Regions from separate parts of the Homo sapiens genome. Here all the other regions are reported to be linked to region 7. Evidence: microRNA targets listed by miRTarBase, many of them from high-throughput screens and not tested one by one. Region 7 holds a microRNA gene; each other region holds the end of a gene's coding sequence. Distances are between the middles of the regions.
The links. Region 7 holds the annotated microRNA hsa-miR-4742-3p (UCUGUAUUCUCCUUUGCCUGCAG, at 1,497-1,519, opposite strand). A microRNA usually pairs through its seed, bases 2 to 8, with sites in the 3' UTR of a target mRNA and lowers its output. Matches are read on the target gene's strand: a 7mer-m8 pairs with bases 2 to 8, a 7mer-A1 pairs with bases 2 to 7 and ends in A, and an 8mer does both.

Region 1 (4,482 bases), not on the chromosome of region 7:
TGTTAGTTGTGGGTTTGTTAAAAAAAAAAGAAAAGAACCCTTTGAATTTCTACAGCATGCAGATACTATGTCTTATTTTCTTTTTTACTTCCTTACTCATTTTTTTCTGATCTCATTCCATGGTCTTATTCTTGTATTTTTTGCAGATTGGAGATCTGCAGAGAAGCTATGTTGCTGCGCAGAAGTCTGAAGCAGCATTTCCAGACCATGTGGACACACAACATTTAATTAAACAATTAAGGCAGCATTTTGCTATGCTCTGATTGTTCCTTAGACCACATATGTTCTTATGAAGCAGCATTATGCAAGGGGAAAAAAGCACTATGTCTGTGTATGTATGTATATAGTGTAATACGTATATTTTAACAAACCTGTCCTTGATATTAGTTAAGGTGACACATAAGGGTGACACAGAATGTGTAATGCAAATTTCATAGTAATAGTAACTTTATAAAATAATATTATAAAATACAGGATTTAAACCTTTCTAAATAGATCCTGAAACTGTCTCTCACATTATATAGTAGATGTTTGTTTATAATGTTTACAAAACATTTTGGTGAATTTCCTCAATGTTTTATAAATGTACATTTTTTAAGTCCTTAAGCTGACTCTTAGCCATCATGTAGCTTAAGGAGTCTGAAATCTGCCATTAAAACTGCACCTTTAAGCCAGGTGTGGTAGCATGTGCCTATAGTCCCAGCTACTTGGGAGGTGGAGGTGGGAGGATTATAAATAGAGACTTTCCTTAAGACTTTAAAAATGTATTTAAAACTATTTTTTATTAAATACTTTGTGATTTCCTATTAAGCTTTAAAATAAATCATTGTGTAAAACACCATCATTTCATTATTTTTTAATGAGTTTTTATTTTAGTCATCTCAGGTGAAACAGGTTTTACAGAAGTCCAGTAATCTTAGAAATCATCATTATTTTAATTTTATTTCAAATGATATACCACCAATTCTGTTTTTTCCTAAAAAGTGATTTATGGGATGTCACATTATTAATAATAAGAATATTCAGATTAGAAATAGAGTCACAGGCCAGGAGTCCCACTTCTGGTCAGCCACAGCACGGAAGTCAGCAATATTCCAGTACCATGCATGGCATAGCAGCCTTAGAAAGGCTCTTGAACTTTTCTCTGCCTTATTTAGTGGAACTCTTATTAAAGTGTTCACACAAGGAAATGTGTTAATGGGACAGGACCACTCAAACTCATACTTTGGACTTTGGGACCTCCATGTTATTTTTCATTTTTTTAACTTCATGAAAACTATTTGATAGATACTTCTATTCTTTTCAGATTTGTATAAATTGTATACTCAGCTGAGAGAACAAAAAAATTGAATTCAAGGAATGATAGCTTGCTCAAGGCTAGCATTCACTACAGACAAGAAAGCAAGGCCCCGCGTCACATCCATAGCTGCAGCCCAAGGTCTTGTTCCTGCACCTTAGACTTGAACCTTTCTTGGTTCTCTGTGATGTGTTAGTGTTTATTTAGCCCTTGAGAATTTCCTCAGGTACTATCACATTTCCTAATATCGTAGTCAATATTTAGATTCAAATGGTATAATGTGAATCATTTTCTTAATTTAAAATAAGAGCTAATAAGAATGGCTGAACATTTACTGAGGATGTTAAATATGCCCACTGTTCTGAGCTCTTTATGGGAATGAATTCATTTCATTCTCACCGTAGTCCTATGCAGGCTGTTATTCCATTTTACTTATGAGAATACTGAGGCATAGTAAAAAGCTTATTGAACTAGTAGTAAGTGCCAAAGATTCAGGTTTAGGCAGCGTGGCCTCTTGAGTGTGTGCTCTTAATCACTAGGTCAAATCACCTCTCTCTGTTTCTGCTGTAAATAAATCTACTACCATTTAAAATGAACATTGTGTGCATTAGGAAAGTTGAATAATAAGGGAATATTAACACAGCAAAAAATAAATGATTCCATTTTCCTAAGGTGATATGGAGGGATTTTGTCTTGAATTTATGTGAATTCAGTGTGAGCATGAAGGCAAAGAATGAGTCACAGTGGCTCAGGGCAGAATGATGACATAGCACCGTGGATGACTGTATCAGAAGCGACATTCAGGATGTCTTTGTAACAACATTTCCTATGGACTGCGTAACTTCTGGCTTCTGTGCCAACATTTCTGTAGAAAGAACACAAAAAATACTAATAATTGTTTTCCAGTTTTCCACTGTGGCTAAAGAGGTGCTCAATCCATAAATACAAATTGCTCAACCAAAATTCATATCATCGAGCATATTTCCAACTGATGAAAATGAGATCTGGCAAGAAGGCTTCCTGCGCTAAAACATTACTGAGGTTAGAAGTTCTTCCTTTTTTACAAATGTGTCATGGCTGAGCCAGTCCCCATAGTGATAACTCTTCCATTGCATTTCTGAGTGCTTTTTCCCAGGCTCAGATTATCTATCAGGATACAATTTATGGCCTACAGATAAGAAAATTAATAAAGGTAACGTGTCACTACATTATTATTATTATTATTATTATTATTATTATTATTATTATTATTATGACAGTCTTGCTCGGTCGCCCAGGCTGAAGTGCAGTGGCATGATCTTGGCTTACTGCAACCTCTGCCTCCCGGGTTCAAGCAATTTTCGTGCCTCAGCCTCCCAAGCAGCTGGGATTACAGGCATGCACCACCACACCCAGCTAATTTTTGTATTTTTAGTAGAGACAGGGTTTCACCATGTTGCTCAGGCTGGTCTCAAACTCCTGGCCTCAAGTGGTCCACCCGCCATGGCCTCCCAAAGTGCTAAGATTACAGGTGTGAGCCACTGCACCCAGCGTCTCTACACTTTTAGTTTCCACCACCAACCCTTTACTACAATGAGGGATTTCTGTCAGGGTCTTTCAGCTGGGATTGAATTTAAGCATTCAGAAAACAAATATTTTAGAAAGGCTGGCAGGACTAAACCTTAGAAAATAACCCAGAAATCAAGTGTAGGAAAAAAAGCCATCACCAAATAATTTTGTATTCTAGGAAATAGAGAAATTGGAATGTTCCATGTTTATGTTCCTTGCAGAGTTCCAAAATGGTCATCTAGGCTCAGATTTGAGGGGGAAACATTTATTTAGCAATTTGAAAATAACTGCACTTTCATATCTATCCATATAGATGGCATTCGTCCTATTTTTAGCTAAATAAAAACAACATTTTTGAGAGAGACTATTATTTCACTTCTTTGATGTCAAAGCCAGTCCTTGAAATGAAAGAATAGACATGTTGTTATAATCCTTGGGAACTATGTTTCTTGCAATGTGATCCTTTTCTTTACCTGAATCTAATTCTGACTAATAAGGGAAAGTGGATTGTTAAGTGAAAACAACGGGAACTCTTGGTGAAAGCAACCGTGTTATCTTGGAGAAGAGGCTAGACCTAAACAGATTTTAGGAAGAATTTTGTTTTCTTTTTAAATCAGAAAGAGAGACCCTCTTCCAATATTTGAAACTCAAGTTTTTATGGACTCCAGCACCTTGCAACTGTCACCGCCCCCAAACCCCACCCCTCTTCTGGTCTAATAGCTTCAATTTATTTCTCTCTACTGGATTATGTCTTTTTTAAAAATCACATTTCCTTTAAGCCTGCCTCCCTTTTTAAAAATAGACAATATAACTGTTTATTAAAATAAAGGAAGAGAAAGAAAATAACCTGAAAAGGAAACTCATAAAAGAAATTAAAATGGTTGATAAACATATGTAACAAAAAAAATTTGATAACAGAATGAAATTAATTCAAGAGAAAGATACATTTTTAACCTCTTCAGAGAACAAAGATTTGAAATGTTTATTATATATGAGGTGAAGGTACTGTCAAAATTCACTGTTGGGCATATATATCATTACAATCTTGAGAGTAGTGTGGCAAATTTTATTAAATTCCTTCCATTTCTCTTGTGTGTTTTTTTTTTCTTCCACTTTTAAGTTCCAGGGTGTATGTGCAGGATGTGCAGGTTTGTTACATAGGTAAATGTGTGCCATGGTGGTTTGCTGCACAGATCAACCCATCACCTAGGTATTAAGCCCAGCATCCATTAGCTATTCTTCCTGATGTTCTCCCTACCTCTACTGTCCCCACAACAGGCCCCAGTGTGTGTTGTTCCCCACCATGTGTCCATGTGTTCTCATTGTTCAGCTCCCACTTATAAGTGAGAACATGTGGTGTTTGGTTTTCTGTTCCTGCATTAGTTTACTGAGGATAATGGCTTCCAGCTCCATCCATGTCCCTGCAAAGTACATGATCTCTTTCCATTTTATGGCTGCAGAGTATTCCATGGTGTATACGTACCACATTTTCTTTATCCAGTCTATCCTTGATAAAACCTGCCCCCTTTTCTAGTACCACCCTATCTCCTTTGTCACAGGTCTTGAAAGGCTAGATGACTTTTGTTACCTACTTCCTCATCTTTCATTCATTCCTCAACCTCTTTAATCTGGAGTCT
Region 2 (4,557 bases), 78 Mb from region 7:
CAGAAAACCTTGAAGAGACAGTCGGAGAGGGCGGACCTGAGGAGTTTCAGAAGGGAAACTTTTCCCTCTCCTAGGAAGTTGCCACGATTAAGTAGAGAGGGGGTTAAGTAGGGATGAGGTAATACTGGAACATAAATAGGAGAAGGGATCAAGGATTGAGGGCCATAGTAGTCCTGCATCTCTACTTGGATCAGATCTCTAACTATGTATGAGGTCTGATTGGGGGGAAGATGCACTGAACCCAAAATGAACTGTTTTCCCTCTTGTCCTCACAGCTCACCATCATATTTAAGAACATGCAGGAATGCATTGATCAGAAGGTGTATCAGGCTGAGGTGGATAATCTTCCTGTAGCCTTTGAAGATGGTTCTATCAATGGAGGTGACCGACCTGGGGGATCCAGTTTGTCGATTCAAACTGCTAACCCTGGGAACCATGTGGAGATCCAAGCTGCCTACATTGGCACAACTATAATCATTCGGCAGACAGCTGGGCAGCTCTCCTTCTCCATCAAGGTAGCAGAGGATGTGGCCATGGCCTTCTCAGCTGAACAGGACCTGCAGCTCTGTGTTGGGGGGTGCCCTCCAAGTCAGCGACTCTCTCGATCAGAGCGCAATCGTCGGGGAGCTATAACCATTGATACTGCCAGACGGCTGTGCAAGGAAGGGCTTCCAGTGGAAGATGCTTACTTCCATTCCTGTGTCTTTGATGTTTTAATTTCTGGTGATCCCAACTTTACCGTGGCAGCTCAGGCAGCACTGGAGGATGCCCGAGCCTTCCTGCCAGACTTAGAGAAGCTGCATCTCTTCCCCTCAGATGCTGGGGTTCCTCTTTCCTCAGCAACCCTCTTAGCTCCACTCCTTTCTGGGCTCTTTGTTCTGTGGCTTTGCATTCAGTAAGGGGACCATCAGTCCCATTACTAGTTTGGAAATGATTTGGAGATACAGATTGGCATAGAAGAATGTAAAGAATCATTAAAGGAAGCAGGGCCTAGGAGACACGTGAAACAATGACATTATCCAGAGTCAGATGAGGCTGCAGTCCAGGGTTGAAATTATCACAGAATAAGGATTCTGGGCAAGGTTACTGCATTCCGGATCTCTGTGGGGCTCTTCACCAATTTTTCCAGCCTCATTTATAGTAAACAAATTGTTCTAATCCATTTACTGCAGATTTCACCCTTATAAGTTTAGAGGTCATGAAGGTTTTAATGATCAGTAAAGATTTAAGGGTTGAGATTTTTAAGAGGCAAGAGCTGAAAGCAGAAGACATGATCATTAGCCATAAGAAACTCAAAGGAGGAAGACATAATTAGGGAAAGAAGTCTATTTGATGAATATGTGTGTGTAAGGTATGTTCTGCTTTCTTGATTCAAAAATGAAGCAGGCATTGTCTAGCTCTTAGGTGAAGGGAGTCTCTGCTTTTGAAGAATGGCACAGGTAGGACAGAAGTATCATCCCTACCCCCTAACTAATCTGTTATTAAAGCTACAAATTCTTCACACCATCCTCTGTTGCCTATGTTGAATCTCTTTACAGATGCTTGAAATGGAGTAAATGCAATGTGTTCACTCCACTGAAAGAGGGCTCGGAAGTATCAGATACTGTTGCTATCTCAGGGAGTTTACAGGCTATTGGAGAGACAAAACCAATTCACATGAAAGAGTGATGAGTGTGTAATTATTCACTAAATCCTACAGTATGGTACATTCAGATGGGAAGATGGTAGATTTGAACTAAAGTAATAAGAATAATAAAAGGTAACAGAGAAGATGGGATTTGAAGTGAGCTTTGAAGACTGGGTAAGATTCAAATTGTTAACGATCTTCCAGGCAATGAAAACCATCTGGAGTTATGCATGGATTCATGATTCAGCAAGGAAATGAGCAAAACTCAAATGCAGTAGACAAGGAGTAATGGGACAGAAGGTTAGATGGGCAGAGGCCAGATTATGAAGCACCTTAAAAAGGGGGTAAGGGGTTTAAATTTGATTAATATCTAACACTTATTGAAGCTTAAAATCTGCCAGGCAATGTTTTAAACACTTTTAAAACATTGACTTAATTCTCATAGCTCTCTAAGGAAGGTGGTATTCTTATCTCTATTTTTATATAAGGAAACTTGCCTCCAGTCACACAGCTAACAAATTATGGAACTTGCCTCCAGTCACACAGTTAACAAATGGCAGAGCCAGAAACTGAACCTATGCCGTTTGGATCCCGAAACTTAATTTTTAATCACTATACTATATTGTCAAGGAAGCAGAGAGCCATTAAAGATTCTGGTTGTGGAGCTGGTAAAGATTCTAAAAGGGGAGTTGTGGTGGTCAATGTCACCACAAAAGCTACTCTGAGGCTGGGCGCGGTGGCTGACACCTGTAATCCAGCACTTTGGTAGGCCAATGTGGGTGGATCACTTGAGGCCAGGAGTTCGAGACCAGCCTGGGCAACATGGTAAAACCCCATCTCTACTAAAAATACAAGAAATTTGCCAGGCATGATAGTCCATGCCTGTAATCCTGTAATCCAAGCTACTCAGGAGGCAGAGGCATGAGAATCGAGAATTGCTTGAACCCGGGCCAGGAGGCAGAGGTTGCAGTGAGCTGAGACCACGCCACTGCACTCCAGCCTGGGCAACAGAGTGAGACTATCAAACAAAAAACAACTACTCTCTTCTCATATTCTCATATAAAGCCAAAAAGAGAGAGTTGGAAAAGGAGGGAAAGCCCAAAGTTGAAGGAATCTAGTTTGTAGAAGAAAGACTGAGAAGAAATGCTGTTCTAGATGAGGGTGCTCTAAAGTAACAATGCTGCTCTGAACAAAATTATGAAGGAGGTAACTTTTACATTTAATATCTTCCCTGTTTCTGGTCTCATCCTCCCCTCTCAGGTACTCCATAACCGAGGACCTGTCCTCCCTGCCCTAATCAAGTACTCACCATTATCTTCCACCTCTCCTCTCAGTCCCTGACACCCGACAATACTCCCCTGAACAAATATTACAGTAGGGCCCTTTGTATCTACTAATTCTGCATCCACAGATTCAACCAACCACGCACTGAAAATATTTGGGAAGTAGCCGAGCGCAGTGGCTCACACCTGTAATCCCAGCACTTTGGGAGGCTGAGGCGGGTGGATCACAAGGTCAGGAGTTTGAGACCAGCCTGACCAACATGGTGAAACCCCATCTCTACTAAAAATACAAAAAATTAGCCAGGTGTGCTGGTGGGAGCCTGTAGTCCCAGCTATTCGGGAAGCTGAGGCAGGAGAATGGCGTGAACCCCGGAGGCGGAGCTTGCCGTGAGCGGAGATCGCGCCACTGCACTCCAGCCTGGGCGACAGAGCGAGACTCCGTCTCAAAAAAAAAAAAAAAAAAAAGTAAATAAGGCTAGCTCTAAGCCCGCGCGAAGGAAGAGTATTACATGACAGGTGTCATCAAAGAATTTCACTTACCACTTGGCTGTGAAATTCTTTTTTTTTTTTTTTTTTTTTTGAGACGGAGTCTCGCTCTGTCGCCCAGGCTGGAGTGCAGTGGCGCAATCTCGCAATCTCGGCTCACTGCAAGCTCCGCCTCCCGGGTTCAGGCCATTCTCCTGCCTGAGCGTCCCGAGTAGCTGGGACTACAGGCGCCCGCCACCACGCCCAGCTAATTTTTTTGTATTTTTAGTAGAGACGGGGTTTCACCGTGTTGGCCAGGATGGTCTCGATCTCCTGACCTCGTGATTCGCCCGCCTCGGCCTCCCAAAGTGCTGGGATTACAGGCGTGCGCCACCGCGCCCAGCCGAAATTCTTCTCAATTCACTTGAAATTCCCACACCTGAGGGATAAAGTTACTCTTTTAAGAGAACCAATACAAAGAGTATTTCTTCAAAAGGATGTTTTGAGTTAAAATACCTATATTTTCTGTGAAGTGAAGAGACAGCCCTGGATATGTCTCTTCCCCCAATTTTTTTTTCTTCATTACAACACATTATTTTCTCCATTAGCTAAAGGTTACTTTGGAAAGCATAGAGACAGTGCTTTGAGGGAATGGCAGAATGGCTGTGGTCCTTAAAAGAGGTGGAGAGGAGGGAATAGAGGATAAAGAATTGCAGGAGAAATTTGAAATGGCAGACCAGATACGTCTCGAACTCCTGGCCTCAAGTGATCTGCTCGCCTCAGCCTCCCAAAATGCTGGGATTATAGGCATGAGCCACCATGCCCAGCCCAACTAGCCCTATTATTAATGGAGCATTTTTAAATAGGTAGCTCAAAATAAGCATATGAAAAGATGCTCAACATCATTAGTCACTGGGGAAATACAAATCAAATGAAAACAACAATGAAAAAATACTACATACCCACTAGAATGGTTAAAATGGAAAAGACTGTTAAATAAAATACAAAATGTTAGGAAAATGTGGAGCTTTCATGTGCTGTTGGTGGGAATGTAAAATGGTACAACTACTTTGTAAAACAGTTTGGCAGTTCGTTAAAAGGTAAGTGTACACTTACCATACAAACCAGACATTCCAAACTTAGGTACTGACCCAAGAGAAATGATAACATGTGCTGCACAAA
Region 3 (4,557 bases), not on the chromosome of region 7:
CAGCCCTTGGAGGGGGCCTGGCCGGTGACTCTGGGAGATGCTCAGGCCCTGAAGCCCCTCAAGTTCTCCAGCAACCAGCCCCCTGCAGCCGGAAGTTCAAGGCAAGATGCCAAGGATCCCACGTCCTTGCTGGGCGTCCTCCAGGCCGAGGCCGACAGCACAAGTGAGGGGCTGGAGGACGCTGTCCACAGCCGTGGTGCCAGACCCCCTGCAGCAGGCCCAGGTGGGGATGAGGACGAGGACGAGGAGGACACGGCCCCAGAGTCCGCACTGGACACATCCCTGGACAAGTCCTTCTCCGAGGATGCGGTGACCGACTCCTCGGGGTCGGGCACACTCCCCAGGGCCCGGGGCCGGGCCTCAAAGGGGACCGGGAAGCGAAGGAAGAAGCGTCCCTCCAGGAGCCAGGAAGGTAACTCAGGGAGGGGCCCCGGGCACCGTCCCACGCCAGGGCGCTGGCACCCAGCCGGTCCCTCCCCTTCCCCATTGGGCACTGCAAGTTCCAGCGGCACCCAGGAGAGGTGACTTGGGTGCGGCACGGGAGAGGAGGCGGCAGTGCGTCCACCGCAGGGCGGCTATGTGGGCTGCCGCGGCCCGTGCAACTATTCCTCCAACCTACTAATTCCGACCTTCACGCCACCTCCGTTAGGGAGTAGGGGGCGGACACCGGGCACCAGGTCCCAGGCAAGTGGCTGCCATGTGGCTTAGTGGCCAGAGAACCGGGCAGCCCTCAGAGGGTGTTGGCATGGCTGTCCCGGGCCCCCCAGCCCCACCCACTCCGAGTCAGGGTTGCTTCTGTGTGATAAGCCGTTGAGTGCGTTTCTTTTATTTGGAAGCAGAGGTTCCCCCTGATTCTGATGATAATAAAACAAAGAAACTGTGTGTGATCCAGTAAGGTATGTACGCAGCCGGCGCTCCGTGGGGGCTAACAGCAGCTGCAGGGCAGTGGGGCTGGAGCTTGCTGCCCACACCCCTCCGGGACACTAACCTGGCTTCTCTCCAGCCCGCGTGGTGCGTCAGTGTGGCCTTGCCGCTCCCGCAGCCCTGGTGGTGGGCTTCCCGCCCCATCCCCTCCCTCTCCGCAGGTTACCTGCTCAACTGGTGCCTCCTGCAGGCAGGACGCAACCTCAGTGCTGGCCCCGGGCATGCGGGCCTCGAGAGGGCAGGTGGCAGGGCCAGCCGGACTCCCTTAGCAAGCAGGATCCGGGCCCTGGGGCGTGGGCGGGACCTCCTGGCTGGCAGGACAGGCTGAGGTTGCTCCTGTCTGGTGTCCTGGCGCTAACTGCAGTTCCAGTAACCCTGTGGCTTTCCTGCTCTGTCTGTTGGTGGAGGGCTATCTTCACTCTAAGTGTGTCAATGGCGTGGGGCCTTCTGGGGCATGTCCCCAGGAAGTCTGTGAGGAGACCGGGACAGTCGCAAGGGCAGATGCTGCCAGGGACAAGTACACTGCAACCCCCCTCCTGTTGGACAGTGTCCTCCCACCCCGAGGCCATGGGTGGGTCTATGGAGAAGCAGATTACCCCCCGCACACCGAGTCTTCTGGGGGGCGACCAGCCAAAGGTCAATCAGCCAGGTCCGTCCACAGGGCTGGAGAGGCCAATGCATCCAGCTAGACAGGACCAGCCTGCACTGGGTGGAGGAGGGGCTAGAGCAGAGAACCAGAAGGTCCAGCCCGGCCGATCATGAGCTCTGTGAGCCCAGGTCGTGGCGTCTTCCAGCACCTCCAGCCTTGCTCAGAGCCAGCCCGGTGTCGGTGCATCACAAATATGCTGACCGCTGGGCCTGGGGCTTAGGCTCAAGGTGCACACCTGAGGTCTGCTGGTGCCCATCAGAGGCAAGAGCAGTCGTGACCCCGGAGAAGCTTCTCCGGACAGCTTGTCCTCGCTGTTGGGGCACGGCCTTCACCCTGGGTTCCAGCTTTTGCTTCCAGGGTCATCTTCCGAGTGTGGCTCTCTGGTGTGAAGCACCCACGTGTACTTTTTAGAAAGGTGCTGGCATCTCCCTTAGAGGCTGGAACTTGGACTTGCTGGCCCTGAGTGTGAGGAACAGTGGAGCATGCAGGTCTGGGGCGGGCGGCCACATCTGACAATGGTCCAGTGAAAGATGGACGTGTCCAGTGCCAGCTCCACGCTCCACCTGGTTCCCTCCTGAACCTGCTACACGTGCTTAGCCTCCACCCGCCCCAGCTCCTGCCACGCACGTGGCTGAGGGCAAGAGGAAGAAGTCCTCTTCTCTCCCCAACTTTTTATTTTTTATTTTTTTTCAAGACGGAGTCTCACTCTGTTGCCCAGGCTGGAGTGCAGTGGTGCGATCTGAGCTCACAGCAACCTCCACCTTCCAGGTTCAAGTGATTCTCCTGCCTCAGCCTCCCGAGTAGCTGGGACCACAGGCACACGCCACCACGCGCGGCTAATTTTTTGTATTTTTAGCAGAGACAGGGTTTCACCATGTTGGTCAGGCTGGTCTCGAACTCCTGACCTCAGGTGATCCACCCGCCTCGGCCTCCCAAAGTGCTGGGATTACAGGCGTGAGCCACCGTGCCCAGCCCCCACCTTTTTATTTAGAAAATCTTCAACACCACAGGAAACTGCATAGATCAGAATGAACAACACCTTCTCCCCGAAATTACAACCATTTGCCAAAAATACCAAAATTGTGACCATTTTGCTACATTGCCCCCCTCCAACTGAGGCATCTGAGAGTTTCTTATAAACATCATGGCACTGGAGCCCTAAACTCGCCCACAGACACCTGAGAGCACAGCCGTCTTCCTCAGTCCCCCCCGGGCAGGGTGCGCTGCCGTCCTCCCAGTCCGCCCCCACCGGGCAGGGTGCGCTGCCGTCCTCCCAGTCCCCCCCCCGGGCAGGGCGCGCTGCCGTCCTCCTAGTCCGCCCCCCCGGGCAGGGTGCGCTGCCGTCCTCCCAGTCCCCCCCGGGCAGGGTCCGCTGTGGGGCGCTTCACGTCCACATGCTTCTAATACTCGGTCCCAGTGCAGATGTGCCACTTGCCCCAATAATTCCTTCTCTAGTTGTTGCTTTGTTGTTTTTGCAAACAAGATTGTATCCAGAGTCACATGCTGTGTTTGGTTATCATATCACTTCAGTCTCTTTTGTTCTAGAACATTCCTGCCCCTTTTTGTCTTGTATGACATTGACGTTCTGGAAGATAACTTCACTTTGGGTTTGCCTGATTGCGCCCCCAAGTAGGTCCAGGTTGAGTTTTGGGGCAGGAGTTCTACCCCAAGGGATGCCATGTCCTCCCCAGCTGGGTGGGGACGTTTGTGGCAGCAGCGCTGACCACGGCTGCGGGGGTGGTTTCTGAACCTCCACTGCACGAACACCACGCTGTCTGGTTAATAAGCACCGGTGGTGACCTGTGGAACCAACCGCTGCAGCGCGGTTCTGTGTTCGCCGCCCCTCGTCCGAGCGTTCCCCCCTCCCCTCCCTTTTTCCATCACGTGAGTTTTGAACGTGCAGTAATCCTTCACTGCCACTGCCGTGCATTTGATGGGGACCAGCGGGGGCCCTGAGCGCTTCCCATCTTTGGCACAAGCCCCTGTTCCTAGCTCACCCCAGACTTGCTGATCCCCCCATCCCTGCACGGGCCTTGGTCTTGGCCATTTCTCCAGGTTCCCTGAGTGGGGAATGGTGCTGAGACCCTCCTTTGAGTGATTGTTTTGGATAGTTTTTGTTTTCTTGCTGTCTGTTTAGAGTAGTGGTTCTCAAACCCTGCTTGGGCCATCCCACTGGGGAGCTGGGACACCACCTGGCACTGTGGTGGCAGTGGGGGTGACACTCAGACAAGGGCCATCGAGGGCCCCTGGACCAGAAAGCGAAGAGGGCGTTGGGGGCAGGAGGCCTGTGGGGCCATGTGTGGGGGCCGTCTGGGTGGCGGGAGCTGTTGGGGCAGGGCTGAGCGCCCTCAGCAGCCCACTGGAGAAAGCGCTGCTGGGGTCCTCGTGTGGGGCCCAGGGCCCGACGTGGAAGCAATGGAGGGCTGCAGGGGGTGGCAGTGGGGATGAATGAGTAAGGACAGAGTGCAGCCTGGGTCTCAGACAGGGGGTGGGGGACAGGCCACAGAGATTCCCTATCTCAGCAGAGAGGAGACAGGCTCAGGCTGCCACGCCTTGCCAAAACCCAGCCTGGCCAGGCCAGCCCGGCACCTTCCACCTAGATAAGTTGTGCTGCTCCAGAGAAAGAGCCTGGGGTCAGAGTGGACCTGCGATGCATGGCACAACCTGCTGGACAGTGGCGATGAGGGGTTCAGGGACCTGGGCACCCAGAAGCGGGCACCTGATATTGTACCCAGCAAAACTGCTCCTAATAATGTCATTTTTTCTCTCTCTTACAGGCCTCAGGCCCAGGCCCAAGGCCAAGTGAGAGAGCCCAGGCCACAGGACATGCTGCCATTCTGCCAAGAGAGGCTCTTCTGGGGGCCAGGCTGGGACTGGGCCCCGGAAACCAAAACTCCGTGCCTTACCCAGCCGGGGCCCTCCTGGAGCCTTCTTGGGGTGTTGTGGCTGGGAACCCGACAGGCACCAGTGCCCTGCCAGGCCTG
Region 4 (4,557 bases), not on the chromosome of region 7:
GATAAAGGATAGCTGAAAGATAGTTCAATTTAAAAAAATTAAGTTACCAGTTTAGATAAAGCCTCTAAATATAGAACCTCTATGTCCTATAAGATGAAAGGAACTTTTTGTTTTCATCTTTTTCCTCATTGTTTTGCTATTTTTCCTGTTGATATTTTTCTTGTTTTGGTATATTTTTTCTTTTCATTTTTATAAATGAATTCTTAGAGTGTCAGATTCTTCTCATGTGGTATTTAAGGAAAACTAAAGGGCAATGTTACTGTATACATTTGTATAGTCTTTAATGGTTAAAAAACATTTTAACACTAAGCATTATTATCTCATTTGATCCTCACAGTCTACAAGATAAGCAAGACAAAAAATTGTGTTCATGTTACATGTTCAAAAACTGAGGGTTAGAAAGTTGGAAAGGCCTACGTAAGGTCCTACCTATAACAAAGGCTGGAACTGGGACTAGCCATCTGATTCCTTTTCCAATTACCACTAGACAACAACATTTTTTGATGTTCTTCTCTGGTACCCATCCTATCTTTCCATAATGTTATGATCCTTTTGATCACAGAGTGAGAACTTCCCCACTGAAGAAGGAGAAAAGGAGGAGGACACAGAAGCACAAGGTGCTACTGCACACAGTCCACTCTCTGCCCAACTCTCTGACCCTGATGACTTCACAGGCCTCGAGACATCCAGCCTCCTACAGCATGGAGACACTGTCCTTCATATCAGTGAGGAAAATGGCATGGAGAACCCGCTACTATCTAGTCAGTTCACCTTTACTCCCACTGAGCTGGGGAAAACGGATGCAGTATTAGATGAGTCTCATGTTTAATTCTGTATCTTGTAAGCTCTGCAGGTATAGAGAAGACATGAAAGTGATCTCTCTACTACAAGTTCAATACTTTTGCTTGAAAAAGATTAATTACAAAATAGCACTTTACTTCTAATGGGTGGCACAAATCTGAATAGGTTTTGCTGCCAATACACATGATGTTTCATAAACATCTTAAAAGTCAATGGCTAAAAGGATTTAGTTGTGTGAAAATCACAAAACCAGGGAGGAATAAGGGGAAAGAGCCATTTCACTGCACATTGTTTATGATTCAAGAAGCCTTCAGCAGTTAAAAATATATACTATTCATTGCTGCTTTCATAGAAATATTAACAAATGATATGATCTAAAAATAGAATGCAATTTTTTGAGATTACTCACATTATACATCTCATGCAAATATTTATTTTTATAGTTTAAAAAATATCAATTCAGGTTGGCTATACAAGTAGCAATTTACATAAAAAAATAATTAATAGGAAAAATATTACTTTGGGGAGACTAAATAACAAGCCTGCAGCCATTTTTGTTTTGAGTAACAATACAGCCATTTAGAAGAAGAAAAAAATACTATATAGAGAGCTGTGGACTTTTAGATATTTATTTTTCAACTATCATTTTCATTGCATGTTGTAAATCAAAATGCAGATGGCATAAGATCATCCCATTTCATAATCTATCACATTAGAATATTACAGAATATTCTAGAAATCATCAGAAATAATTCTGAATTAAGAACCTAAACAGCCTATACAATTATAAAAACTAAATGTATATATAATCACTTAAAAGAGATGGTATTCCTATTCCTAGCCCTGACTACATCAATACCAAGATTAGAAGCTATTGGAAAATGTGATTAGTAATACTTTTCCTTATAGTATCCTGTGCCTGCCCTGGAGGGCATATTTTCAGATATTAAGGTTAGTGTTGTTAGAATCGGTTTAATAAAATAACATTTTCCTAATAGAAACAATATTCTTATGATACTTGGAACATCTAAGTTTATAAGGAAAAATGTATAAAGTAAGCAATTTCTTCATAGACACCTCCAGTTTATATATTTTGCAAATAGGCCTTTAACTTGAAGTTCAATTACTTCAAGAAAAGTGTAACACTTAGAAGGCTTGTGAGGCCAACACCTAGTGTGTTACTGATCCTATGGTAGGGCTGTGCATCACGTGGTTCACAATTGAATTTCAAAATTTTAACAGTTTACATTAGAAAACTGTTACCTAACAACCAAGCATATACAAACTCATATACATACTTAAATTGGTACGGTGGTGTATGTGTGCGTGCGTGTGTGTGTGTATGTGTTGTAGTCCTCAAGATGAAGTTAAATATAGACTTTAATTACCCTGCAATGAATTTAAAACACATTCTGTATGCTTAAACTTTGAGTGCGTTGGCTGTGAAATGTATACATATATAAAGAGGATACCTACTAAACCCACCTTAATCATAAAGGAAAATTATTTTTTGTTAGAATTGCTTATTAAATAGGCATACTTTATACTGTGGTTTATAATTTCAAATATAACTTGGGGTTATGGTCCTATTCACTAAGAGAATGAAAGATATCCATGAGTTAAAAGAACAAAACTAAAAATTTCAGATCTAACAATTGAAAGAAAATTGAGGCAGTAAATGACCTCTTTTACTCTTTTATGTTTTACAATATTATCATGTTATTTACAGTTAATGCTGAAATAATTCTCAAGTGCAGGAATATAAATGTTAAGTGGTTTTATGATTCCAAGCTGATATATTTCACCTGTTAAAAATTATGCTGCTAAATTAGCATTAGAGGCCTTATGTTTGGTAATTACAAGTGTCTGGGCTATTGGCGCGTCTCTATATATGTGTGTGCTTTGTTCCAGTTTCTTCAAATTATCTATGTATAATTGTATGAAATATTTAAATAGCAAAGAAGTCAAAGAAGATTGTTAAATATTCAACAAGAATCATAAATACCTTTATATGTATTTTAAAAGTATTGGGCTGTTCTGAACATGATTATGCTGGTCTGTCTGTCTTTTAGCCTGACTCCTTCACTCTTGTGTGTGAAGTCTATTAGCAACTTTCAATAAGCTAAGCAATGTTGTAACTTGCAAAAAAGCCTCCACTCTGAGAAACAGGGCCTTATAGAGTAGGAATGTTTTCATACTGGGACTACTGAAATTTTGCAGATGTGTGCATCTGTTCCATTTAAGGTGCCCTTAAATGTGTTGAATGTAATGTGTTGAATGTTTATGTGTAATGGCTAAAGTATCTATATGTATGTGCATAAAACTGTCACAAGATGTATTCTCAGGAATACTGTTACCTGGAGTTTGAAAGGAATAACTATTAAAAAAAAAAGTTGGGGAAGATTAGAAAAAAGCTCAAGATAAATGTTCAAAATATTATTAAGTACATGACTAAAAGCTAATTACTACATATGATAAATGCAGTGTTGGTAATAGTAGATCATTTCTTAAGCCATGATACTTAATGATATTTATCTTATTCAGAGGAAAAACAAAAAAGGTACCCACTTCCCATGTAGAAAAAATTAGACTCAGCAAAGAGGTTGCTTCTTCTGAAATTAGCTTTTGAGAGACCTTGGAATAAACCATGTGTTATCCATGATAGTATGACTCAGATCCAATTAAAACAGTTTAAATTCTGGATATAGGATCTCCTATAGCAAAACATTTTACTTTCATTTTTCAGTATTTGCTGCTTTCTAGAATTCTATTAGATAAGCTATGTCATTTTTCTGAAAAAGAAACTGAGTTATTGAGTGTATTAAGACAAGGCACTGAGAACTACAGTGTCAAAATCAAAGGGCATAAATGGGCATGGCAGTGCTGGTGGAAAAATCTGTGGTACTGGTGATCTGGTTAGGGCCTGTTGCACAGGCTGGGAGTAACTGGTTTGCTGTTTCAAGCCTCCAAGAGTACCTTAAACAAGGTGATAGCTCCTCTCTTCTTTAGCATTATATTCCTTTAGTCAACAAAGAACTTTCTCCACTCTGCTGCCCAGCTCTGAGAGTATCTGAGATGAGAATAGGATGTGTGTGGAGGGGCTTTTAGGGAAGAAAGGGTCATAAATGAATAGAAGTACAGTCTGAAACATGAATTAAATATCCTTCCTCAAGTTATAAAGGATACTTTAATAGAACACAGTCTCCAGAATTCGCTGCTATCACACCAAGTCATGCTGTTGCCCTGTGACCTCACACTTCCCATTCCATGGCCTTGTCTTGGCAGGGAGTAAAAAATCCCACTTCTTTTTACTTTAGTGGGTCTCAACTGCAGCATTTCAGAAACAAATTTTGATTTGACACTCAGGAGAATAAAAACAAGTTGAGGGCAGAATGTATTTGGAAAAGCTTAAGACAAATTTACTGATATTATTTTATGATCATTTAGGATTACAGATCAATTTACCTCCATAAATCTTTGAATTGTCACTGTGACCACAGGATGAAAATCCTTTATTAGCCATTTTATAGGTTAAAACAAAAAATTGACTACACAGCCGACTTCCCTCAGATAACTATGAAGTCTATTATGAGTACTGAATGACCAAAGAACATGGAAAAAATGCATATGAATAAATACTGAAATGTTTATGAAAGATATTTATGAAAGATATTAAGACTTCTGTGTTTAGGTATGCACATATGATAAAATAAATCTAAAAACATTAAAGATGCCTAAGTTTCATTTCTTAATGTA
Region 5 (4,557 bases), not on the chromosome of region 7:
TACAACAAAAACAAAATAAGAACTTCTAGAACTAGAACTCTACCCTATGAAAGGAATGTACACAGATGGTTAAAAAAAAACCAATAAATAAATAAAGTGACAAGAGTGACTAATTCTGTATCCACATCTTCAGAGCAGGAATACAGTAAATGAGTAAATGCTTAGAGGAGTCTTGCTGAAAATGAGAAAAAATGCATCTCACTTTAGTATAATTTTTCTAAATTCTCACTGAAGCTCTAATTCTCTTGTGCTGGTGACAGGTGGACAGGGTTTTTAAATGCAAAGTATTCTCCCTACACCCTGAGTATGGATGCATCAGTTGTTTAAAATTCTGTGGAAAGTTTCCTTAGAAAAACATAAAATTTAAAGTGATATACTGATGGGAAATTGAATATATTAATTGTGGAAGAATATCAGCTAACTAATTAACTAAGTAGACATTTAAATCTGGACTCTGTTGAAGAATCAAGGTTAAACTCTGCATTATGTGCACTAATGTCAGCCATCTAATATCAAAGTCAGATAAGTAAACTATCTTTCACTTTATACATAGTGCATTTAGTAAATAAATTCTCTTACCAGCAACATAAAGCCCTTGTTGGAGCAAAATTAAAGTATTAAGAATTGAATTAACTTACAACAAATATCTGAAGGGTAAGTGGAACATTTTTCAAAGTATAAAGATGTTATCACATATATTCACCATGAATCCTCTTAAAGGTTTTATAACACCATTAAATTATATCAAATATCCAACAGATATTGTCATTTTCTTCTGTGATTTATAAAGGAAACATTCCTTTTGTACAAATCAGAAGTATCTTAAAAATCAACCTTAACACCAAAATATACATGTAATTTTAACTTGGTTTAGGAAAACATGAAAGAACTGTCACATTTTGGTGTGAACAAGGTTCTGAAAACCCCCTATCAGAGGTCTCATTCACTTTTTTCCACATATCACTTGAAGGTTTTGAAACTGGTAAAAACAGAATTCAGCTCGATGTACATCAAAACTTTAACAGTTCTGAAAAAGACGTATTTCGTAAGGGCCAAAATGTACAGCACAGCAATATTACAATGTTACAGTATAAATATGTCAAGCCAATTTGTAATAAAATAAGACAGTTGTCTTCAAAAGAGCTGTTTGACTATAGAGCAACCAAATAGATCTAGAACATCTTTGGAAAAACCACAAAGTGCCTTTACAGAAAGTTAAGTTTAGACTACACTTAATTAAAAGATAATACTCTAAACTCAAAATTATTTTCTCTATATGAGGAATTTTGACACTTGTTTTCACACCTGCCAATATTCAATATTTTTAACTCACACTTCTTTTCATACATCTGCCAATATTTAATATTTTATTCTATGCCCCTGCACTGAATTGATGTAAGTGTGAAGTTCCACTATTATTATTACCACACATGCTAATACCTAATAACTGGTCTGTCATTATGTAGTGGTTAAATAAGCAAATGCTGAACTCAGCACAGCTCTAGCAAAATGCAAAGGAAATAAGAAAAGCCTCACCTCAGAATGATTACACCATAAACAGAAATAAACATTTTCAAACACAAAGTTTCACAAAATAATATATCATCACTTTAAAAGAAATTCAGAACTCTATTTTGCTGTTGATCAAACTTGTGCATACACTCAAGTTACTAAACACAATTTGATAGTTAGATACTTGTAAAAATGCATTCTAAACTTAATAATCAATTAATTCATAATTAACAAGAGCAAACATTCCTAGTCCTAACATTTAAAAAAACCCAGTCCAGTGCTGCCACATCTCAAGTTCTGAAAAGCTAAAGGCAGGAACAATTCTGGTTATACAATTCCTGCATTTCTCCACCTTAAAAAATACTTGAAGAAACTTTAGGAAACTTTATATTAAGGCTTGCTGTATTTCTGTATCTTAAATTGAGAAAAATCAAAACCTACGATGTAACCTCGAATTATTTAAATAGCTTTTGGCATTTTTCTTGAAAAGCAAATTTGAATCTTTCACTATAAAACATTTCTATACCACAATTACTAATTCACATTAATGTGTAAGTGCCCTCATTTCCTATTCCCTGGCAGGCGCTATGTCTTCTTTCTACGTTTTGTGCAGCTTTCAGAACAGTCAGTGCTCAGAAAAAATGAAAACGTAATGGAGCAAAATCAAAGTCCCCAAAAAAAGTGATTTATCCTAGATTACAAAATCCAGTAGTGGAAGAACCAACATTTACACACCCAAATACACACACACCCACACATACACAGGACACAGCGAGAGATGAGAGAGAGTGGGGGGTGGGGGAGGTGAGAGACAGTGGGAGGAGGGGGGAGGGGGAAGAGAGTGGGAGGAGGGGAGAGAGAGTTGCAGGGAGGGAAGAGAGAGACAAAAGCAAGACACAACCTTTGTCCTCTATTCATGTCAACTTGCAGTTTCTGGACACAAACTAGTAGGAAATGTAGAGCCCAGAAAGATCGTGTCAGAGAACTTGACGAGACAGTGTAGATATAGTTTATCTGGGTGGGGCGGGGTGGGGGGAAATCCCAATTTTTCTAAAACAAACAAACAAACAAACAAAAAAAACACCACATTCTTGGTAGAGGTTTTTTCAAAAATCCAACAATAAAAACTACTGGGCTTCTCTAAATGCATTTCCATATTAACATTAATTTTTAAAATTTCAACATGTTTTACAATTTAAGTTTTCACTTGTAAGATAAGTTGGGAACCCAAAATTGTCAAAAAAAATTTTAATTATTGTCAATAAAAATTCTTACTGCACAATCTTTATAGGCGTTTTATTTTAAAGCACCTTTTTAAATTTTAACAGTGGGTTTCTAAAAAGAAAACAGTAAAATAAAAGAGGGAACAAACTGGCAAGGTTAAAGTACTCCCTTACACACACACACACACACACACACACACACACACACACACACACCTTTCATGCCAGAATGACTGGCAGCATTGGCAAATAATGTCAATGAAAGGATGGGGGAAACTATCACTTATAGTGTTTATAGAAACCTAAAATACTAATGTTTCTGCTAAGAAATTAAATAGTTTGGGGAAATCAAAAAGCTACCAATAGCTGATCTATGAAATATGAAAATGAAACTGATTTTTAAAAACAGGAAAGGCCAAAAATCTACTAGAAATTTTTAAAAATCAGCCTCAATTTTATTTTCTGATGTCAGACTAGTTATTAATTAGATACCATTTGTTTGCAAAGGAGCAAAATTATAACTCTATCACTGGAACCTATCCTCAGCCACTTCAGTGCAGTTTCTAGCAGCACTATTTGGATACAAAAAGAATGTGGTCAGACAATGCCCCTGAAAACCCCCTGGTTAGACCTTCCTTCAAATACATGTTCTTAGGGTCTTGACACACTACACATGTGTATAGAAGAATAAATGAAGGTAGTATTTTGACAGATTACAAAAGTATGAACTATATACACCGAGTGATAACACAAAGCGCTCAGAAAGCTATATTTACTTGCCTCCCAACTGACTTACGATGTTAATATTCACTATTCAAATTTTATCCTAAACATCTTTATTGGCTTGTTCCCCTCCCCAAACAAATACTAAAATATACTGGTTTGGGGTTTGCTCTATGCATTTTCCAAGAGCCAATCAAACAGCGACTTGCATCTCTCCTCACTGGAAGCTTTTTCCATCACTTCATAGTATTGAAGCACAGCCTGCAGGAGGTCTCCCACTTTCCATCCTTTCTCTTGTAATTGTTTTGAAAGCTAAGAAAGAAAGATGTGTCAAACATTAACCAAAAACAATTTTATAACAAAGCTTTTATTTTTATTTTCAATATTAGCTGAAACTTAAGAATCCTGCTGTTTACAATTAAATACCGTTTCCTAGTTATAACAAGGTCTTCCCCTCTAAACCGCTACCCCTTTACCCAAATTAAACATTTTCCCTTCTTCCCCTTTATAAACACATCTCCTCCAGAGAATGACACTTTGGGATCGCTGGAGACAGAGCTCCACAAACCTCACCAAGCAAATAGTCTGCATGGACATGCAGAGGCTGAGTTTCTACAGGAAATTCTTCACCTAACTAAATACAACTGCCACACCCTCAATTAGGACATAAAATAATAAAGACAACGTCAAACTCAATAAAAGGATGTGGATTTTCCTTCCACAACATATAGTGTGGCATTTTTCTGGAATACACACTCTAGCCTCAATGGAAACATGGCTTTCTAAGTTAAAGAATGTTAATGTTTCAACAACAAAACAACAAATAAATAAATAAATAAATACAGGTTTAAATAAATCCTGTTGTCACCACTCACGACATGCTTTTGTTCATTTCTTTTTCTACTAAGTTCTGTAAAAGCTCTTAAGTTTTGAAAGATCTGTAAGTTAAATTCTGAAAAACTACTTTAATTTTGTGTAACATATATATGCTTAACCTTTTTAAAAACAGCTTTATTGAGATAAAACTCACATAACATACAATTCACCCAAAGTGTCCTAGTCAATGGTTTTTAGTATGTTCTCCAAGTTGAATGCAACC
Region 6 (4,525 bases), not on the chromosome of region 7:
GCACCCCAAAACACCACATTTATTTGATATTGGGATTGATATTTCTCTTTTACATTGTGGTTGGGACTCATTAACTCTCAATAAGGACCAACATTAAAGGAGGAGTTTCCTCCCTCTCAGGAAAAAAAAAAAAAAGCTTCCTTGGATGGGCCACAGCTCCTGTAACTGATTTGCTCTTCTGGCACAGGACATCATGTTGTGTGGTACCCTGAGGCTGGTGAGAAAGGGAACAGACTCAAAAATTCCTGGGTGGAAAGGCTCTTCCCTGCATTTACCACAATTGCTAAAATGCTAGGTTTAATAGCTCAAGGCTGGTCTATATTTGCATGGAAACTGTGTATGTGTGGAATTTTATTTTATTGTTTTACTTCAAGATGGTCATAATAAGAGCCAGACTGTTGATGAGTCTAACGATTAGAAGCAGCCTCTAAATTCCCCATACAATCACGTTGGGTTCAATTTTGAGATTTTATTCTAATAGTTCAAAATGTGTGGTGTTTATCTAGCAACCTCACTAAAGGACTCACATTCACTGGTGCCAAACATGTGCATTAGCCTTGCAGCCGCCCAGTGCAAAGACTGCCTCTATAACCAGCCACAGAGTTTAAGTAAAGCAGTCTGGAAGAGTGTTGGGAAGGTTCATGTCAGTAACTGCTATATTTATGTCCACCATATCACTGTTAAATTGGCAAGCACTGAGGCAGCCTTCAGCATGGCTGAGTGTGTACACTCACCATTCCTGGATGAGTTGCGTGCTTGGAAACAGGAGCACAAAGAGGGTGCTTGGCTTAGGGAACTTGGCTCGACATTTCTATCTCTTTGAGTTATGTCCACCATTACACCTGCGTCCTTTGGAGCCAAACTTACACATTACCACCATTACTCTTTCATAGCACTGAAATTGTACTCATCTATGAAATCTGCCTTTCTCTTTCTTACATTGCCACAGAACAGAATCTCTAGGAGTGTGTGGGGTATTGAAGAGGGGGAAGAATACATTCTGGGTCACTGCTTGAGAAATTTTTTTATTGTATTTGTTTTCAAGTGATTCTGGTAACCAAAGTATTACAGTTACAGGGCAAGCAAACATTTAAGCCAAAAAACAATCATATGGCAAAGGCCTCTGCTTTAATCTACTACATGAGAGGTCATTGTTACTCATTTCCAAAGCTGTTATAGACTTGGAATGTGGAATTGGAGAGGCTTTTCGAATGTAGTTAGTGGTGTTCACAAAAGAACCACTGCCTTTCAACTTGGACCCTAAGAATGAACTTATCACTTCCATTTAGAACTTATATAAGCAAAAATATCTGAAGGCAAATATCAAGCCATGTTTCCACACTCCCAAAGTATCTCATTTGTCATGAGCCATGAGTGTCACTTTTTAAACTCCTTCCCTGAATGCCCAATCAACAGGAAAGAAGCTGCAGAGCAAGGGCAGAAGAGTCTAGACCAGGTGTTGGGAACTATAGCTCACAGACTGGCCACTTGTTTTTGTTTGTTTGTTTGTTTGTTTGTTTTTGAGACAGTCTTACTCTGTCGCCCAGGCTGGAGTGCAATGGCATGATCTCGGCTCACTGCAACCTCCACCTCCCGGGTTCAAGTGATTCTCCTGCCTCAGCCTCCCAGGTAGCTGGGACTCCAGGCACCCACCGTCATGCCTGGCTAATTTTTGTACTTTTAGTAGAGATGGGGTTTCACTATGTTGACCAGGCTGGTCCCAAACTCCTAACCTCAGATGATCTGTCAGCCTCAGCCTCCCAGAGTGCTGGGATTACAGGCATGAGCCACCATGCCTGGCCTGTAAATAAAGTTTTACTGGAACACAGCCATGCTCTTCTGTTTACATCTTGTCTATGGCTGCTTTAGTGCTACAATGGCAGAGTTGGGTAGTTGGGACAGACACCATGTCTGTCTGTTGGTACAGACAACACAAACTCCAAAATATGTACTCTGTGGGTCTTTACTGAAAACTTTGCCGACCCTTGGTCTAGACAGATAGTCAGATGAGCTAACAGTTGGCTAAAGGTCCTCAACTCACAATGCCAAGAGAAGGACTGAGTTGGCTTTAGTTGTTGTCATGCACTGTGTAATTTAAAAAATCTTACAGGCCAGTACAACTAAAACTCCTATTTACCTTACTTTGGAGCAACAATATGGAAAGTAAAACTAGGTCTGAATATATTTTATATGTTACCTGGACTTCTAAAACATTGTTGATTGCTTAAATGTGCATAAGTCAATGTCATTTCTCAAAACGTTTAATAGATGCAACTGTTGGCGGCTGCTAAAGTACTGGTGTTATGCTTGTGCCTGTGTGAAATTCTACAGTGCTGAAAATCTCATGCACTCTAGCTATGAATGCAGGTCTACTTGAAGCAAAACTCTTCAATCTAATTGTTTTCTCAATCTTTGTAAACCAGTTTTAAGAGTCACCAGAAATCTGTAGTTTAAGGCACCAGATACATTTCTTGGCTGAGCCTTGTAGGACCAATATGCTGGACCAATTCGGTAAAATACACCATAAATTATGACTGCTTTATCTGAATGCATGGGACACTTGCTACGATGGCGGGAATTATTACCAGGAGTTTAGGAGCCAGACATGGGTTCTGTATTTTTCATACATTGGTGATCAATTCAAATCTCTTTCCTTTGCAGCCAGGTTTGGTCAGTCTGGCCAGGAGTGCAGATTATGACAAAGAACAAAGCTAAAAGACCTGAGCCATTAAGGTTACAGTCTCAATACCACCGAGTTAAACAACCTATTTAAATGCAAGACTATTGATTGGAATGATATTGGACAGACATGTCAGAAGTGATCTGAAGGCTTTGAAATGTCATTAAGGGTGGGACTTATTGTTGGATGTTGGCTGCAACGAAGGCTACTTCTTTTCTTCTCCTTTAAATATTAGGTAGATCATAAATAACAGATATTATTATGGATTCTACCTGCAAATGTGTCTTAGCAGATATGTGATGAATTGGAGTGGAAAAGCCATTCAGGAAACAGGAGGACTTGGGCTTCCTCTTGAAGCTCAGGTTTGACCACTGGGTTGTTTTCTATGTCTACAGGTTTAAATGGCTGAAATTCAGTTCTCTAATCACAACTCTCCTTTTATCTAGAAGAATTTACAAAGCTTGAGGTAATGACTTTGGGAAGAAATGATGTGTAGTGAAACTATCACTAAGAATTTAAATGTGATTTTTTAGACTTATATGGAGAATAAGACATATAAATCCACTTGATAAATTATAAGATCTATAAAAAAGACATAGGATATTAAATTTTTCTTCAGTTTCAAGTATGATAGAATCATACAGCTGAAGAAAACATCACCATTCTAGATTTTTATTAAAAAATAAACAAACATTAGTCCTACTTTTTGTCTCTAACGCTTCATGAATTTATGTGTCAGCCTTGTGCAGGGGCTGTGCTAATCTCTGCATTGTTCCTATTTTAGTACATGGGCTACTGAAACAAGCAGAGTCCTACTTCTTAAACTTCCTCTTCCTTACACGTAAAAAGCCCACCAGTCAAGGTCTTTTAATTTTGGTGTACACTATCACTGAATGCCATTTATAAATTCTAATTTTAAAGAGACCCTTAATTTTCAAAGGAGGACTTTGATAGCATTAGTTTTCAGAAAAGATGACTTGCAATTCTAACTTAGTACTTGAAAGGTGAGATTTTTATAGGGAGGCTTATAAAAGGTGTCTTAGAAAAAAAATGAGCGCTCTCAAACCTTTCTTTTGGGAGTGAGGTTGTGGGGCTGAAGTGACTTTTTAAAGTGAAGCAACTGACACTACCCGTGGGAGAAGCCACCTATGCGACCTGTGGCCAAACCGCAAATGTATGTTTCTGTGCAACATTCCTGCTAGAGCAGCCGGGCTCTGAGTAAGGTGTAGCTGGCTAGATAATCACTAGGGAGAGGTCCAGGGTGTGGGGAACACTCCAAATCACATTCCATGGAAATATTAGACTGTCAGAGCTTAGGAAGTCCCCGATTGTCCATAGACGCTGAGGTGGGGGAAAGGACTGAAATGAATGCTAGCACATGTTAGCTTATAAAAGAGCTGCTGACACAAATTGAACATGTGCAATTTTTTAAAAAGGTGGTATCGAATAACAGGCCAACAGCCATCCTTCTCAGCATTTAGACCTCTTTCTTCTCTCCACTTTGGCTCTTTGTTGAGTCACTTCCATCAGGCAAAGTTCCATAGGATAAGCTATGTGAATCTGGTTGTATTTTGTCCAACATTTGTTTCCCTGTGGAGATAATAATCATAGAGAATCTTTTGAGGTCTTACAGAAAAATAAGTCTTAATAATTTCTCCTCAATCTAGGCCACATTTTATCACCTCTCTTTTATACTATGTGGGCACTCTCTAAAGAGAAGAGATGAATATCAAGGAAGAAAAGGCCCTTGAAACGCCATGTCTGTAGCTATGTGATAGCGAATTGTCTGTGTCAGAGCCACTATCCCCACCCCACAGGATCTACATGCTGGCCATGGAAATCAGG
Region 7 (4,000 bases):
GGTAGACTGCTTGAGCTCAGGAATTCAAGACCAGCCTGGGTAACGCGGTGAAACCCCATCTCTACAAAAATTTGTTGGGGCTACTTGAGGGGCTGAGGAGGGAAGGACTGCTTGAGCCCAGGAGGTGGAGGTTGCATCAAGATCGTGCCATTGCACTCAAAAAAAGAAAAGAAAAGAAAAGAAAAGAAAAGGAATAGATGAATTTATATGCTTGATGTTAAAATCTAAATCTCTAAATGTCTCTCTTTGTCCCAATCCTTAAATATGCCTTATTCTTAAAGGTAAACCTCATGTGCACTTTATGATCCTCTTATCTACCAAGATCAGTTTTTTGTCAAGATAGGGATAGTAAACATCTTATACAATAAATGGAACATAACATAATCTAATTCCTTGGTCTATCTTATAAAACCAGATTCAGTATATATTTTTTTACTTTTTGTAGAGACAGTGTCTAGCCATGTTGCCCAGGTTGGTCTGGAACTCGTGGCCTCAAGCAGTACTCCCATCTAGGCCTCCCAGAGTGTTGAGATTACAGGTGTAAGCCATCATGCCCGGCCAAAAAAAGTGACTTAAATAATTTGCTTTTATAGTACCTAGAAATGTACAGTGGGTATTGAAGAAAAATGTGTTGAATAAAAACTTGCAATAATTTGCCACTAGTTAAGTTCCTATCGCCTTAAAAAGTACACTAATTTTTATTACTGCCTCACTTATTTGTGCTTGCATCTTCTAAACAATTCACACTTTAGAGTGACTTTAGGCATATTCCTGTCTGGAATACTGACACTTTTAGATTAGAGAACAAGTTTATTCAAAAGGGTAGTAGTAGGAAGAATAATTTCAGCTTTCCTAAAATCTTAAGAATTATCAAACTCAATTATAACTCTGGTGACCGCTGAAGAAATACTGAAGAACTAACTATAGTCAAATCTGTCCAAGTTCAGGTAGAGCATCATAATTAACCTTGATTTTTCAGATACTACCAACCCTTAAAAACCATCAGTCCCATGAAAATACAAGTCAACATATGAAAGTATAATAATTTAACTAAATCTTGATTAGACACATGCACCAAACACACTGCTACGTGGTCAGAATAAGCACTGCTAATCCGTGACAATACATGACAATATGGAGGGCTTAGGTCATTACAGAAAAGGAGAAAGTAATACATGACAGCATGTGACAATTTGTGATAATACAGGGGCTTAGGTCATTACAGAGAGAAATTAACCGTGTATTGGATAAATGAAAGAATTTTAACTTACTACCCTGAATTTTCTTGGAGACATGACTGCCTTCATAAATTGAGATTTACAGACTTTAATATCAACATATGTAAACTGATAAGGACACAATTTACCTTCACTGCCACTAGCGATGAAGTCTTCATTATGGCCTCCAAAACATGAATGAATTGTATAAAACCCTTGTGTAACACCTTGATACTTTCTTACTAAAACTCTGTCTTGCAAGTCCCATAAATGAACTCCCTGCAGGCAAAGGAGAATACAGATATTTAATCTGCCTCAACTCAAACAAATTTTAAAAAGTATCTGTAAATATCCCTTTGCCTGATGAAATATCTTCATTTTCTATTATGCAAAATACCAACATTCTGACAAATTTATGGTTGATTATACACATTTAAGGATCAATCACATGCAATCAAATTTAAGGGTAAGTAGAAAATTTTGTTAATATAAATACACTGAAAATAACAGTTAAAATAAAACTTGTACTAAGCCAAATTTTTCAGAAAATTATACTAATAAACATACCTGAGTTGCTACATTTAACAAAGCTAATCGGCCATTTTTTGAAATAGTAAAAGACATAATAGGATGATCTTCTTGTACTCTGGAACCAGAAAATAATTTGTCAAAAACAACATATTAACAGTCAAGACATTCAAATTATCAATACATAAGATGTGCTAGCTTAAGTATGACAATTTTGCCTGCAATCACTATTACATACTATACTTCAATTGAGAAGAATCTGAGTTACTGATTACTAAGTACCATGTGACCTTCAATCCAAATTACCACGCAAACCAAAACGAAAAACATAAAAACTGTGAAAAGGCAAGTTCCACTACACATTTGAATATAAATCAGGTAATTGTTGTTTAATGGAAACAAAAAATAGTTACATGTTCCTATCTGTAAGGTCCTCGAAGTTATAGCCCCGAATTCGCTGGTGTGTATCTGATGCCAGAACAGTCTTTCCATCACTCAAGCACCAAAGGCATTGCACTCTTACCCCTTCCCAGGAGTCAAGGAGATTACCATCTAAGTCCTGAGTAAGAAAAAACTACTATTAACTTCATTACTCAACAGCACTCAGAAAGCAAATAAAGAACCAAAAGACTCCCTTCACAATATCTTTTAGTAACAGGTTTTTTTTTTTTCCTGAGACTGATCTCAACCTAATTGTTCTAGAAGTGTTTTTAACCATGAAAATTTGAATATAGTTCAAATTTCATTACAACCATACTTAAGGGAAAGCAGAGAGACACTTTGTAGCTCTATCTTCCCTTCAATAACTCACCATGCATAAATAACACAAAGAAAGAAACAGTCCCTAAGTTCCAAGTAAGGTCTTACTTTTATTCAAAAACAATTTAAACGTTCCTTTAAAATTCACTATACTGGAATTTGTCCTAATATTTAGGAGTTGTGAAATGGAAAAAGATTCTAAAACATTTTACAGCTTCATACAGACTGGAGGAATCTGTTAATGACATTTTTCAAAAATTTACCAAATTTGTAATGTGCTCTACAGATCAAAGCTCTTATAGTCATTATCTCATTGAATATCCAAAGTTCTGAGAGGAACAACCCTTCCCATTTTATAAGTTAGATAATCCTGTATCTTGATGGCTTAACACAGTATAGGACAGCAAACTCAGCAGAAACATACATGATCATCTTGCACGCAGGGAATTAAGAACAATTCATAACCATATTGAGATAATATAACACCAAAATCCATGTGTTCCAAACGAGCTTAATAAAAGAAACTGATAACCTGTTTTAGCTAAATTAAATGATTTATTATCTTGTTTTAGTTTAAAAAATTGATCTGGGGTCGGGTGTGGTAGCTCATGCCTATAATCCCAGCACGTTGGGAGGCCAAGGCGGGAGGATCATTTGAGCCCAGAAGTTTGAAGCTGCAGTGAGCCATGATCACACCAATGTACTCTAGCATGGGTGGCAGAGAGCAAGACCCTGTCTCTTAAAAAACAACAAAAAAAATGTGGACGTGCATACTGGGACCATGTGAGTCTGTAATATGAGACACAGAATCTAGACTACACTGCAAGTAACAGAGAAAGTTTTATGGCAAGGTAAACAATGATTTATGATATAAATGATACTTATGATATAAAGTTTACCTTGCCATAAAACTTATTTTTATCATTCCAACAATTCAAAATAATTAGGGCAGCTACTTATTAGAAGCTGACACAAAGATTGAAAAGTACTCTGGTAGCACCTGTCACCACTTTTATTATTCAAATATTAAAGGGAGTCTACTCATAAAATTCAGTGTTTTTTTTTTTTGGTTACAAAAATCTCAAAAGAAATTTAAAAAATCTTTTCAATTCTTATAAATTAGAAACTTGCTCATAAAAACAAAAATGTTTAGCAAAACACATTTTTTTGTTCTACTAAATCCAAAGTCTATACTTTGTACAAACATTTGAAATGTTTAAAAGAAAGGAAAAAAATGACCCAGAAAATTCTATTGGACAGCGCTTGTCTACGACGACAGCAAAGTAGGTGTTCATAGAGTATATTTTGTTTTATTTATGTATTTTTTTGAGACAGAGTTTCACTCTTGTTGCCCAGGCTGGAGTGCAATGGCGCGATCTTGGCCCACTGCAATCTCCGCCTCCTGAGTTCAAGCAATTCTCCTGCCTCAGCCTCCCGAGTAGCTGGGATTACAGGCACCCACCACCATGCCCAGCTAATTTTTGTATTTTTAGTAG

Region 1: miRTarBase lists TTC8 as a target of hsa-miR-4742-3p. Seed matches in the 3' UTR shown: 7mer-m8 at 468-474.
Region 2: the mRNA of HJV is a reported target of hsa-miR-4742-3p. Seed matches in the 3' UTR shown: 7mer-A1 at 942-948.
Region 3: the mRNA of INF2 is a reported target of hsa-miR-4742-3p. The part of its 3' UTR that is shown has no 7-base or 8-base seed match.
Region 4: miRTarBase lists UNC80 as a target of hsa-miR-4742-3p. Seed matches in the 3' UTR shown: 7mer-m8 at 1,370-1,376.
Region 5: the mRNA of AKAP11 is a reported target of hsa-miR-4742-3p. Seed matches in the 3' UTR shown: 7mer-A1 at 1,920-1,926, 7mer-m8 at 1,913-1,919 and 7mer-A1 at 115-121.
Region 6: the mRNA of NIPAL2 is a reported target of hsa-miR-4742-3p. Seed matches in the 3' UTR shown: 8mer at 2,612-2,619.

Annotation. Positions count from the first base shown.
Region 1 is chr14:88,877,148-88,881,629 of GRCh38, forward strand. It overlaps TTC8 (tetratricopeptide repeat domain 8), which reads left to right. Exons shown (of 15, transcript NM_144596.4): 15 at 147-841. The coding sequence ends at 263. Among named protein-coding and RNA genes, the nearest start is that of TTC8, 55 kb to the left of the region's middle.
Region 2 is chr1:146,014,419-146,018,975 of GRCh38, reverse strand. HJV (hemojuvelin BMP co-receptor) reads left to right here. Exons shown (of 4, transcript NM_213653.4): 4 at 276-1,506. The coding sequence ends at 899. Among named protein-coding and RNA genes, the nearest start is that of HJV, 5.0 kb to the left of the region's middle.
Region 3 is chr14:104,714,445-104,719,001 of GRCh38, forward strand. It overlaps INF2 (inverted formin 2), which reads left to right. Exons shown (of 23, transcript NM_022489.4): 21 at 1-412; 22 at 840-896; 23 at 4,351-4,557. The coding sequence ends at 895. Among named protein-coding and RNA genes, the nearest start is that of ADSS1, 7.5 kb to the right of the region's middle. RefSeq lists an enhancer at 232-1,171.
Region 4 is chr2:209,994,767-209,999,323 of GRCh38, forward strand. UNC80 (unc-80 subunit of NALCN channel complex) reads left to right here. Exons shown (of 65, transcript NM_001371986.1): 65 at 563-4,530. The coding sequence ends at 829. Among named protein-coding and RNA genes, the nearest start is that of RPE, 5.6 kb to the right of the region's middle.
Region 5 is chr13:42,318,301-42,322,857 of GRCh38, reverse strand. AKAP11 (A-kinase anchoring protein 11) reads right to left here. Exons shown (of 13, transcript NM_016248.4): 13 at 1-3,770. The coding sequence ends at 3,630. Among named protein-coding and RNA genes, the nearest start is that of AKAP11, 48 kb to the right of the region's middle.
Region 6 is chr8:98,188,821-98,193,345 of GRCh38, forward strand. It overlaps NIPAL2 (NIPA like domain containing 2), which reads right to left. Exons shown (of 11, transcript NM_001321635.2): 11 at 1,006-4,270. The coding sequence ends at 4,158. The region is part of intron 2 of NIPAL2-AS1 (NIPAL2 antisense RNA 1); the gene reads left to right. It also overlaps the pseudogene RNU6-914P. Among named protein-coding and RNA genes, the nearest start is that of NIPAL2-AS1, 15 kb to the left of the region's middle.
Region 7 is chr1:224,396,731-224,400,730 of GRCh38, forward strand. MIR4742 (microRNA 4742) reads right to left here and starts at 1,581; the gene lies at 1,497-1,581. WDR26 (WD repeat domain 26) reads right to left here. Exons shown (of 14, transcript NM_001379403.1): 10 at 2,159-2,304; 11 at 1,785-1,863; 12 at 1,367-1,496.